Regions from separate parts of the Homo sapiens genome. Here all the other regions are linked to region 3. Evidence: fine-mapped expression QTL. A gene starts in region 3. Each other region holds a variant in brackets. All regions are shown on one strand. Distances are from middle to middle.

Evidence for each region. PIP is the estimated chance that this variant, and not a neighbour inherited with it, causes the effect.
Region 1: its variant is the best candidate, but not a certain one, in a credible set for the expression of CD72 in whole blood (INTERVAL, PIP 0.62).
Region 2: its variant is the best candidate, but not a certain one, in a credible set for the expression of CD72 in whole blood (INTERVAL, PIP 0.63).

The regions. Positions count from the first base shown.
Region 1 is chr9:35,582,173-35,586,410 of GRCh38, reverse strand. No RefSeq gene overlaps it. Among named protein-coding and RNA genes, the nearest start is that of CIMIP2B, 20 kb to the right of the region's middle. The variant G/A (reference allele first, on the strand shown) is at 2,047.
Region 2 is chr9:35,636,950-35,641,187 of GRCh38, reverse strand. It overlaps a transcript of CD72 not described here. Among named protein-coding and RNA genes, the nearest start is that of SIT1, 12 kb to the left of the region's middle. The variant AG/G (reference allele first, on the strand shown) is at 2,163.
Region 3 is chr9:35,616,237-35,620,474 of GRCh38, reverse strand. CD72 (CD72 molecule) reads left to right here and starts at 2,062. Exons shown (of 9, transcript NM_001782.3): 1 at 2,062-2,253; 2 at 2,354-2,461; 3 at 3,228-3,299; 4 at 3,786-3,875; 5 at 4,197-4,238. The coding sequence starts at 2,172. RefSeq lists enhancers at 3,058-3,207, 3,647-4,238.

The DNA of each region.
Region 1 (4,238 bases), 34 kb after region 3:
CACACCCAGCTAATTTTGTATTTTTAGTAGAGATGGGGTTTTACCATGTTGGTCAGGCTTGTCTGGAACTCCTGACCTCAGGTGATCCACTCGCCTTGGCCTCCCAAAGTGCTGAGATTACAGGTGTGAGCCACCACGCCTGGTCTCTAGAGGGTATTTAAACCCCAGAAAATTCTGTAACTGATGCTCTTGAGCCACTTGCTTGAGCCCACTCCTACCCTATGGGGTGTGCTTTTACTTAAAATAAGTTTCTGCTTTTACTGCCTTGCTTTGTGTGTTTTGTCTGATTATTTGTTCAAAACGCCAAGAACCTGGACAACTACCCTCAACCAGTAACACTATTGCTCATTTATTTCTGGTGTTCTTGGGTCTTACGGGGTTATAGACTGTGTGACTCCTGGAGGGGAAAGGGTGGCCAACATACAGTCACCTCTGTTTCATGTTTTTGATATACAAGGGAAAGCTATTCTTAAAAGAACAGGTGACTCCCCAGGGAGTCAGGAGTGGTTACAGGGCATGACTTCTTCCCACTCATGGCCACAAACAAAAACAAGCCCAGTTGGAGCACAAACAGGGTCCCTACGGGGTGCGATGCCTACCCTTTGCTGCCAAGTTGTGTCTATAGAGATATTTTTCCCTGTTCTAATTGGGGTGGTTGAACAATCTTTGTTTTCCAAAAGGGGAGGAGGTACTCCCACCTTCCCAGACTAAATAGTTGTTTTTCTCCCATGTGTTCCTTTTTTTTTTTCTCCTGTATGTTCTGATCCAGGGGAAGGAACCATAGATGGTCTCATTGCTTACAAGTTCTATCCCATTTACTTTGCTGTGGCATTGGGAACTTGGCAACTAAGGCTGGATCAGAGCATTGCAGGAAACTTGGCTTTTGTGTCATTAACACAACACTGGGTGCCAAAGATAGAATCATTAGTGCACTAGAAGTATAGATACCCAACTTTCCAGGTCCACATAATAGCAGTGAGGGGGTTCAGGTGGAACCCATTAAGTGGGGGAGAGTTCCATCTAACAAGTAATAGTCTGGGGAGAGGCAGTGAGATTTTTCCGGGTAGGCCTTATGGACTTGCTTTTTAATCAGCTGTAACTCTGCCTCAGCCTCCTTTGTTAATTGTTGAGGGCTAGTGAGACTAAGATCTCCTCTAAGGATAGAAAATAGATTACTCATGGCATAGGTAGGAATGCCTAGAGCAGGTTGTGTCCAATTAATGGTCTTTAGTCATTTTTGAAAGTCATTTAATGTTTTCAATTGATCTCTACGTATGGTTACTTTCTGTGGCACAATTGTAGTGTCATTTACTAAGGTCCCCAAGTAGGAGTAAGGAGTAGTAGTCTGAAATTTGTCAGGGGCTATAATTAAACTGGCAGGAAAAATCAAGTTTTGCAAGTGATCATAACATTGGAGTAATATTTCTCGAGTGGGGGCAGCACAAATTATATCTTCTATACAATGAGTAATGTAACACTGTGGAAATTTTTTACGAGTCGGTTCAATTGCTTGTCTTACATAAGTCTGGCAAATTGTTGGACTGTTCAACATGCCTTGAGGCAACACTTTCTAATGAAAATGCTTAGCAGGCTGCAGGTTGTTTACTGCAAGAATTGTAAATGCAAACCATTCAGTCTTGCTTAGCTAAGGGGATAGTAAAGAAACAGTCTTTTAAATCTATGACTATTAAAGACCAGTTTTTTGGAATCATAGCAGGAGAAGGCAGTCCTGGCTGTAATGTCCCCATAGGTTGTATAATTGAATTAATGGCCCTTAAGTCAGTTAACATTCTCCATTTACCTGATTTTTTCTTAATTATGAAAACTGGAGAATTCCAAGGGGAAAATGTTGGAGCTATGTGTTCTTTTTCTAATTGTTCAGTAACTAAGTCCTCTAAAGCCTCCAGTTTCTCTTTACTCAGTGGCCATTGTTCTATCCAAATTGGCTTATTCATTAACCATTTTAAAGGTATAGGTTCTGGAGGCTTAAAAATGGCCGCCATCAAAAATAATAATCTTAAACCTTGGTGGGAAATTTGTCTTTCC[G/A]CTTGAAGCGGTTCCTTCGAACTTTGCAAATTTTTTCCTAGTCCCGTACCAGGAACATACCCCATTTTATGCATCATATGTTGACTTTGAGGGCTGTATAATTGTTCTGGAATTAGAACTTGTGCTCCCCATTGTTGTAATAAATTTATAGGTACAGAAGTTATAATTGGTTGAATAGTCCAGGTTGTCCATTGGGCCCTTCACAATGCAAAATATAACTACTTTAATATACTTCAGGGGCTTTACCAACTCCAACTATGTTAAATTGAGCGGGTTGAATTGGCCACGTGGACGGCCAGTGCTGTAGATAAATGATTGAAACGTCCACTCCTGTATCTACCAAACCTTTAAATTTCTTTCCCTGAATAGTTATTTCACAGGTAGGATGTTTATCAGTAATTTGATTCACCCAATAAACTGCTTTGCCTTGTTTATTTGTGCTTCCAAATCCTCCTGTTCATTTAATTTCACTTTTCCCCATTTCTACATATGGCACAATCAGGAGTTGTGTTATATGCTGTCCTGGCTCTGCTTTCCAGGGAACAGAAGTAGATATAACAACGTGAATTTCCCCATTGTAATGTGAATCAGTGACTCCTGTTTGTACTTGCACTCCTTTTAAATTTAAACTAGACCTGTCTAGAAGTAATCCTATTGTCCCAGCTGGCAAGGGTCCACAGACCCCTGTTGGAACTTTTTTGCAGAGGTTCCCCAGGCAGAAGGCTCCACAGCTTTTGTGCAGCATAAATCTACTGCGGCACTACCGGCTGTGGCAGGGGACAGACATTGTATAGGGGTGAGGGAATGGCCTGAGCCGGAAATGCCCCGGTTTGGAACGGGCCTGGGACGGGCCCTGAACGGGCCCCTCATGGCATTTCCCGAAATTGGGTTTCCATCCTTATCAAATTTAGAATGATGCTGATTGGCCCAATGTTTTCCTTTTTTACACTTCAGGCATATACCTGGTTCATACTGATAGCCTGTTTAAACTCTTTAAGTAATTTAAAGAGAAAAGCCTCAAATATAGCTATAATATTTCTCTGTTGATCTGGGGGGTATATCCTAACAGGGAACTGCCAAGCCTCTATATCACCCTCTCCTTTTCTTTCTTTTTTTTTTTTTTTGAAACGGGTCTCACTCTGTCACACAGGCTGGAGTGCAGTGGCACGATCTCTGCTCACTGCAAGCTCTGCCTCCCAGGTTCATGCCGTTCTCCTGCCTCAGCCTCCCCAGTAGCTGGGACTACAGGAGCCCGCCACCATGCCCGGCTAATTTTTTTTGTATTTTTAGTAGAGACGGGGTTTCACTGTGTTAGCCAGGATGGTCTCGATCTCCTGACCTCGTGATCCGCCCACCTCAGCCTCCCAAAGTGCTGGGATTACAGGTGTGAGCCACCAGTTCCGGCCTATATCACCCTCTCTTCTAGCTTGCTGGATTCCTGCCTGAATAGAACTGACAGCAGTCACTCGAAGAGCTGCTCGAACAGTCACTGGGGCAACTACTTTTCGCCCAGTGTCCTCCGTAAAAGAAAGATCTGGAGGGTCAGGCTGCTCTTTTTCTTCAAAATAAGGAGGGAGTGCAGAAAGGTAGGGATGAACTCTTCCTCCTTTGCCTCTTTAGCTTTAGCTGGCAAACAAACCTGCTCTGTTACCTTTTCTGTTACTTTGTTATACTCTCCTTCCTCCTCATCATCAGTGTGAAAAGGTTCCAAGGTGGGACGAACCAGAGCCCACACTTGTCCCATTGTTACCCTGATGCTTCTGAGCTCCCCTTCTTACTCACTACAGGGATTGCTTAAGAGTACTTGGGTGTCCTCCAGCTTAGTTCCACATTCTCCAACCATTGCTCCGGCAACCCTTCGATCTGGGTTCGAGCCCCACTTGCTGAGACCAGCTCCGTCGTGGAGACCCTAACCCAGCCGTGCTGGAGGAATTAAAGACACACACACAGAAATATGTAGTGTGGAGTGGGAAATCAGGGGACTCAACAGCCTGCAGAGCTGAGAGCCCCAAACAGAGTTTGACCCACATATTTATTGACAGCAAGCCAGTGATAAGCATTATTTCTATAGATTATAGATTAACTAAAAGTATTCCTTACAGGAAACAAAGGGATGGGCCGAAACAAAGGAATGGGCTCTGGCTAGTTATCTGCAGCAGCAACATGTCCTTAAGGCACGGATCGCTCATGCT
Region 2 (4,238 bases), 21 kb before region 3:
CCGAGGAAATCTCAACTGTGCAACCCCTACTATGCCCCAATTCAGCAGGAAGCAGTTACAGCGGTCATCAGCCAACCTCCCCAACAGCACTTGGGTTTTCCTGTTGAGAGGGGGCACTGAGAGACAAGACTAGCTGGATTTCCTAGGCCGACTAAGAATCCCTAAGCGTAGCTGGGAAGGTGACTGCATCCACCTTTAAACATGGGGCTTGCCACTTAGCTCACACCCAACCAATCAGAGAGCTCACTAAAATGCTAATTAGGCAAAAACAGGAGGTAAAGAAATAGCCAATCACCTTTTGCCTGAGAGCACAGCAGGAGGGACAAGGATCGGGATATAAACCCGGGCATTCAAGCCGGCAATGGCAACCCCCTTTGGGTCCCCTCCCTTTGTATGGGAGCTCTGTTTTCACTCTATTAAATCTTGCAACTGCACTCTTCTGGTCCATGTTTGTTACGGCTCGAGCTGAGCTTTCGCTCCCCGTCCACCACTGCTGTTTGCCACTGTCGCAGACCTGCCGCTGACTCCCATCCTGCTGCTGACTCCCATCCCTCCAGATCCGGCAGGGTGTCTGCTGTGCTCCTGACCCAGTGAGACTCCCATTGCCACTCCCGATCGTGCTAAAGGCTTCCCATTGTTCTTGCACGGCTAAGTGCCTGGGTTCGTCCTAATCGAGCTGAACACTAGTCACTGGGTTCCACAGTTCTCTTCCGTGACCCACGGCTTCTAATAGAGCTATAACACTCATCGCATGGCCCAAGATTCCATTCCTTGGAATCCGTGAGGCCAAGAACCCCAAGTCAGAGAACACAAGGCTTGCCACCATCTTGGAAGCGGCTCACCACCATCTTGGGAGCTCTGTGAGCAAAGACCCACGGTAACACTAACAGGGTCATGGGAATCACCAAATTTATAGCTAGTTGTTCAGAAGTGTGGGTGACCTGGGGACCCCCAAAGTACAGCTGGAATCTGAAGAGAAGATTTGTGAAGGATTAAGCCCTTAACTTATGGAGTCTGCACTAACTGTAGATGGTCAGTGCCAGAAATGGCTTTTAGTACACCAATTTTGGTTGAAACAGAAAAATGTCACAGAATGAAAACCATTTTAGTAAATAGCAATAATTCAGTCATTTTTGGTGGAAATTCTTTGATGTGATCTAAACCAAAATGAGATCAGCTTTGCTTCAAAAAGATTTTGCCAAATAAGAGAAACTGCTGAATATTTAACGTTTAAAATATCAATTTCTATGTATTTTTTCCTTTTTCATGGTGTTCAGGAATTAATTTTGTTAGCAGTCAAGATTGCTTAATCCTCAGAGTTACATTTCCATTTTGCAAAGTAACAACTGGTTGGTTTTTACTCTTAGTTTCCCTTTCCCCAGCCAGCATGTAAACAACCTGCCATATTGTTGCAAAAAGGCAAATAGGGTTAAAATTGGAGACAAGACTTCCATCATTTTTGCCAAGCAGAGAGGGAAGAACTCAGTAATCACATAATTCTGCTCAAACTAAGTGTATCTGAGAACTATTCAAATGTTCACAGGAGGACAGATGACCTCTTTTTTCTCCATTTCTCTTTGGATGTTACACTTTGTCATTTGTCATCAAAATTGGCCTTTTCCTTTATCTCTTTGTGGTAAAGCTTGATGGCATCTGAATTTACACTGTCTCCTTGACAGTTGTGCTGCTTCTGCTTCTTTCTGGCAGTTTCTACTTTTCCTTTCATTTTATTATCCTGCTTTTTATTTCAATTTTGTTTTTATAGTCTCTGTGTACTGTCTTGACCTTTAGATGGTCTTACCTTCAACATGGCAAGGATGTCACACTACCACGTACAAATAACAATGTGCTTTCTTAGCTCATTTCCCTAGCATGACTTTTTTTGAGATGTCAAAAGCAAGTTTTTGAGAAACCAATTGCATTTTTATTTTGCCCTAAGGGTGCTTAACCCAATGTCTCTTCTTTTATTATTATTTTATTACCCAAGGGAAAAAAAATTTACTTAGTTTATTTTTTTAAAGCCAGTACTTTGCTCATCAATTAATGTTTGTTGAATTTATTCCTACTGGATGAGTAGTTGTATTCTTTTGAAATAATGTGTCAAATCTTTGTGCCCAAAGATTAAAAAAATAAAAGTAAAATACATCTAAAAAAAAAAAAAA[AG/G]AATAAGGCGGCCTTCCGGCCCCTCTGGGTCTAGGGCGGTAAAGCGTCTAAGGGTTGCTGCCAAGCGGGCCAGGAACTGGGCTGGGTTTTCGCCTTTACCTTGGGTAGTTTCCTTTAGCTTGTCAGAATTAACAGCTTTGTGTGCTGCCTTTTTAAGCCCTTCAACTAGGCAGGAAATCATGTAATCTCGCCTAGCTATACCTGGGGAATCTGCCTGATAGTTCCTTTGGGGGTCCTCTCGGGGAACTGCTCTGATGCCTTCCTGGAGGCCTGGCTCATGAAGCCAGCGGTTGTCAGCGTGAGACTGGGCTAGAGAAAAAACTCTTTCCTGTTCATCTGGGGAGAGGGTGGAAGTCAGGATGACATTTAAGTCACTGCAGGTTAACTTGCAGGACAGAGTTAGATATCGGAATTCCTGTATATATTTAGCGGGGTCTGATGAGAAAGAGCCCAAACACTGGCTGATTTGGGAAAAGTCTGATACAGAAAAAGGCGCATGTACCCAGACTATGCCTTCAGCTCCAGCCACTTCTCTAAGAGGAAATTGTTGGGCAGGTGGGGGAGAGCTAGTCGCAGAACAAAACTGTAAGCCAGACTGGGTGTGAGGAGGGGAGGTGATAGAAGGGTTATAGGGTGGGGGAGCGGAGGCTGAAGAGGAGCTGGAGCCTGATTCAGCCTGGTGGGGAGCGACCTGAGGAGGAGCAGTCTGGGGAGGAGGGGAGAGGTCAGATGGGTCGGTAGAAAAGGAAGATTCAAAAGACCCAGCAACACTTGGGGTTGGGACTGAAGGGACAGGTGGGAGGGAAAGAAGGAGGATTTGGGACAAGTCGCATTGGGAACAGAGACTAGGGAGAGAATGAAGTGTGAAAGACGCCCGGATGTACGGCACCTCCGACCATTTGCCCATTTTTCGACAAAAATTATCTAGGTCTTGTAGGATAGACAAATTGACAGTGCCGTTCTCTGGCCACTTGGAACTATTTTCGAGTTTGTATTGGGGCCAAGTGGTATTGCAGAAGAAAATAAGGCATTTAGGTTTTAGGTCAGGTGTGAGTTGAAGGGGTTTTCAAGAACACAGGCTAAGGGAAAAGATGGGGGAATCGAGGGTGGAAGGTTGCCCATAGTGAAGGAGGTAAGTTTAAAGAGAAAGGTAGAGACACGGAGCAGGGGGTGATGAGCAGCCCTGGGCTGCAATGTGGGTGAGCAGCCAAAGCAGGCGTCCCCACAATTGACTTGCCACCAAGGGAATGTGGGTGAATGACCAAGGCAGGCATCCCCGTGGTGATCAGACACCAATGAAATGTGGGTGAATAATCAGGCAGGCATCCCCGCAGTGATTAGACACCAAGGGAAGGCTGTCTTCCTGAGTCCATGACCAGCGCCGGAGTTTTGGGTCCACAGATAAAATGTGTCTCCTTTGTCTCTACTAGAGAGGAAAAAGAACTGGAATTGGAAGGACAGGGAGATTGAAGGGTAGCAAGAGAGGGAGATTGAAGGGTAGCAAGAGAGGCTGGAGAAGAGAGTGAAAAGACCGCTTACCCAATTTGAAATTGGTGAGATGTTCCTTGGGCTGGTTGGTCTGAGGACCCGAGGTTGTAGGTGGATCTCCTCACAGAGTTAGGGCGAGGACAGGGGACCCGCCTCCCGAAGGAGTCCTCCTGTCCCGGGTCTTCAGCACCAAATGCCATGCACGTCTGTGTGAAGAGACCACCAAACAGGCTTTGTGTGAGCAATAAGGCTGTTTATTTCACCTGGGTGCAGGCGGGCTGAGTCCGAATAGAGAGTCAGCAAAGGGTGATGGGATTATCATTAGTTTTTATAGTTTTGGGATAGGCGATAGAGTTAGGAGCAATTTTTTGCGGGCAGGGGGTAGATCTTCTTACAAAGTACGTTCTCAAGCGTGGGGAGAATATTACAAAGTACCTTCTTAAGGGTGGGGAGGGTGTATCGTACAAAGTACATTCACAAGGGTGGGGGAATATCACAAAGTACTTATCGCAAGGGTGGGGAGGGTGTATTGTCACAAAGTCAATTGATCAGTTAGGGTGGGGCAGAAACAAATCACAATGGTGGAA
Region 3 (4,238 bases):
TTTGGAGATGGAGCTTTGCTCTTGTTGCCTAGGCTGGAGTGCAATGGTGTGATCTTGGCTCACTGCAACCTCCACCTCCTGGGTTCAAGCGATTCTCCTGCCTCAGCCTCCTGAGTAGCTGGGACTACAGGTTCGAGCCACCACACCAGGCTAATTTTTTTGTATTTTGTAGTAGAGACGGGGTTTCACTATGTTGGCCACAGACACCTTTTTGAGTGCAGACTAGAAGCTTGGTTTTGGCATTTTACCTGGCATCTACATCATGTTCACCTGTGTATTGGATCTGAAAACTGGGACATTCTACAGTTTGTGGAACTCCTGCAAATGTTCCTGCAATTGATTTACTCACACACTGCCCACACCCACCCCCTGTACACCACAGGTTCAAGTATTTGACTCTTCCCACCCCACCCACCCCTGCCACCAGCTGCTCTATACCCTCCCACTCACTCTCAGGGCCCCTGAGGTCCCCAGGGAGTCACCACCACATACCACTCTCTGTATCTGGGGGAAGGTCTAGGTTGTTGGAAACTTTAATCAAGCAAGGACAGTTAACAGCTGCAGAGGCACCTTAGGAAACAGTGAGCTTCAAAAAGGAAATACTTGTAGGATCTCTTGTGATGACCTTTGACGACTTTTCTGAAAATGACCCGTCATTCTCTGCCATGGAAAATAACAGTGATCACAGGCAGCCTTCAGCCCACAGAAGGCTTCCTCCTCCAGGCAGGCTCTGACATAGCCGCTCACCTCACAGATGCCCTAACAGACTGCAAAGTCCTGGGAACATGCATATCCATGCACACACATGCACACGTGCCTCTCTACAAGTACATTTTTGAGGTCACAGCTTTGCCTCAGTGGCCACTTCCTCTAGGGCTGGCTGGGCGGAGCTATTGGCAGAGCTCTAGGGTCCCTGGCAGTGTCCTGCCACACACCACCAATCATCCGAGCTGTTGGCATGTGGTGAGGACCTTTTCCCCCTTCCTTTTTCCTCCCCACAGCTGCAGGAGGGGGATTCTGCGGGGCGGATGTCACTTTGCTAGGGGCGGGTTCTTCCCACCCCCACACTACATCTTGTTCTAGCTCCTTCCTATCCCGGATGTAGGCCATTTTGGGGTTCCTAGTAGGGGTCACATCCCGGTAAAAGAACATTAGGGAGCACCTTTGGGCACCCCTGCTCAGCAGCCCCCTTTCCCCCAACTGGTTCCCTCTCTCCTCCATCAGCCAGGCCCCCACCACCTATGAGGGCCTCGCGGTCCCTGGGTCCTCCGCCACAAATGCCCCCTTTTTCCTTGGGGCTGGGTGGGAAGGGACAGCTTTGGGACTTTTTAAAGAAAGAACTTTGCTAGGAAAGTAAGAGACGAACCAAAACCAAACCAAGAAAATGTCAAGACCTCCGCTGGTCCGGAATCTGCGCTCGGCCTCTGGCTCTGTTCTGCTCCTCTGCCTTGACTTCACCTAGGAAGCTGCAGCCTTCTTAAGCCCTCTGCAACTCCCTTGCTCACCTGCTCCCTGGCTCCCCATGAGGGTGCATGGGGGGCAGTGCTGCCACTTGCCTTTCCAGAGGTGCTGCAGCCATGGCTCTTCCTTACCTTCACCTCTGGCCCAGGCCTGTTCCTGAACCCCCAGTTACTGGAACCCCCAGGATGATGAGAAGCGAGGGATGCAAACCAGGAACCCCCAGTCTCATGGGGAGAACGGAGCCTCACCCTGGAGCTGGGGAGATCGTCTGGGTCAGTGCAGCTCCAGCTACACATCATAAGCCCCAGTGGACAAGGCAGCCAGGAGGAGGGTGGGGCAGATCAGGGCAGATAACCAGAAGGACCGAGTTTGGGGCCCAGCATGGCCCATATGGGTTTAAGATGCATGGAGAGGAAGCACAGGGAGGACATGGGGACAGGCCCATCCCCTACCCCTGTGTTCTGGACCTCAGCGTCCCCTCCGTGGCCCCTCTGGCCCTGGCCCAGGGATGCCTTCTGCTTCATTGAGCCCATCTGTTTGAGACTTGCTAACACCTTCCTCTTTTGTGACTGGAAGTCACAGGGCCAATTGCTAAGCCGTGCAGTCACAGAGGGAACACAGAGCCTAGTTGTAAACGGACAGAGACGAGAGGGGCAAGGGAGGACAGTGGATGACAGGGAAGACGAGTGGGGGCAGAGCTGCTCAGGACCATGGCTGAGGCCATCACCTATGCAGATCTGAGGTTTGTGAAGGCTCCCCTGAAGAAGAGCATCTCCAGCCGGTTAGGACAGGGTAAGGGGGATGAGGCCTCCCCTTGATCCTGCATCCCCACTTCCCGCCCCACAGATCCCATTCCCAAATCCCACCTTGGTCCCTTTTCTCTTCTCTCTAGACCCAGGGGCTGATGATGATGGGGAAATCACCTACGAGAATGTTCAAGTGCCCGCAGTCCTAGGGGTGCCCTCAAGCTTGGCTTCTTCTGTACTAGGGGACAAAGCAGGTCTGGAGAGCCTGGGGGATGTGTGTTTGTTGGGGGGCTGTGTCTTGAGCTGGGGAGTCCACAATGTTTTTGTTGTTGTTCTTGAGACAGGGTCTTGTTCTGTCACTCAGGCTGGAGTGCAGTGGTGTGATCATGGCTCACTGCAGCCTCGACCTCCTGGGCTCAAGTGATCCTCCTGCCCTGGCCTCCCAAAGTGTTGGGATTGCAGGCGTGCGCCCCCATGCCATGGCCCTCAGTATTCTTGAGAGCACAATACCCTGGGGAAAGGAGGAGGGCGGTTCTTAGGAAACAGAAGAATAGGAACAGGATAAATGGGAGCCAGGGGAGGAAGAAAGATTCCTCCCGCAAGGTGGAGACCCCTTTCGGGGAGATAAGGGCTGCGGAGGGATAGGGCAGCCCTGTGGGGGATGAGTTCTAATGGGAAACGGGGAGCCATGGGAGGGAAAAGAGGTGATGGGAGATGGATGAGAGCAAAGGGGGAGAGGGTTTGGAGCCGACAGATAAGGGGCCTCTGAGGAAACGATAAAGGGAGAACTAGGAGAGATGAGGGGGTCCCGGGAAAAGATACAGTGAGACCCAGGAGGAAGCCGAGAGAGTCCCGGGCAGAGGAGGAACTCAGGAGAGTGACACTGTGTCCCAGAGCAGCTCTAGCAGGCAACGTAGGGCAGACTGGAGTTTCCCAGTGGCGAGGGCGAAGCGGGTGCGCAGGAGGAGAAGGGGCAACACTCGGGGCTTCCGGTCTCACACTGGATGCTCCCCTCGACAGCGGTCAAGTCGGAGCAGCCAACTGCGTCCTGGAGAGCCGTGACGTCACCAGCTGTCGGGCGGATTCTCCCCTGTGAGTGTGCCTGTGCGGGGCAGCCGCGGGGCCAAGTGCTCGCGCCTGTCCCGGCTGCGGATGGCGCTGGGCCCCGCGGGGTGCAGCTCCTTCCGGGATAAACCCGGGCGCAGTCCTTCCGACGCCCGGGCTGCCGTGCCACATTCACCTTCATCCGGTGCGCCTGAATCCGACGTGCACCGCCCCCCTGCGGATGGTCCCAATTCACCTACCTGCCCCCCTTCCCCTCTCTCCGTCTGATATTTCCTTCCCCTTCTCCCAGGTAACGCCCCCGAGTCCCCACCAGCACTGATTCTGGAACACCCTCTCCCCTACCTGCGAAACACCCCGCTACCCGACAGAAACCACCATGCTTGCCCCCTCAGCTCTGCACCGCCCTCCTCTTAGGGATGCCTTCCCCAGGGGTCTCCCCCACGGACCTGTCCCTTCCTCTCTACATTCTTTACGGGGGCTGACTGCCCTCATCCATCCCACTGTCCCCCTAAGGCCGCACAACCTGCCTGCGATACCTCCTGCTCGGCCTGCTCCTCACCTGCCTGCTGTTAGGAGTGACCGCCATCTGCCTGGGAGTGCGCTGTGAGTAAGGCTGTCCCTACTTCCCACTTACACCGAACGACTTTCGTCCCGACTCTCGCCCCAAAGCTGATCTTCCTCAGCAGGGATCATAGTCACTACCACCACCTCCTTAGCTTTGGGTTTGGTTTCCAGCCAGGGCTGTTGTCTTCCTGAATTGTCCTCACCTAATCCAGTACCTCCTTACGCTTTAGTCAGTCAAATCTTGTATTTCAGCCTGTGATGCAAAAAGTTGCAAGAAGCAGAAAAAGGGCTGATGCTGCAGTCTCAGGGCACTAGGGCAGGGCTGGAGAAGACATCCACCAAATCTCTGTGGCCAAACAGATCTGCAGGTGTCTCAGCAGCTCCAGCAGACGAACAGGGTTC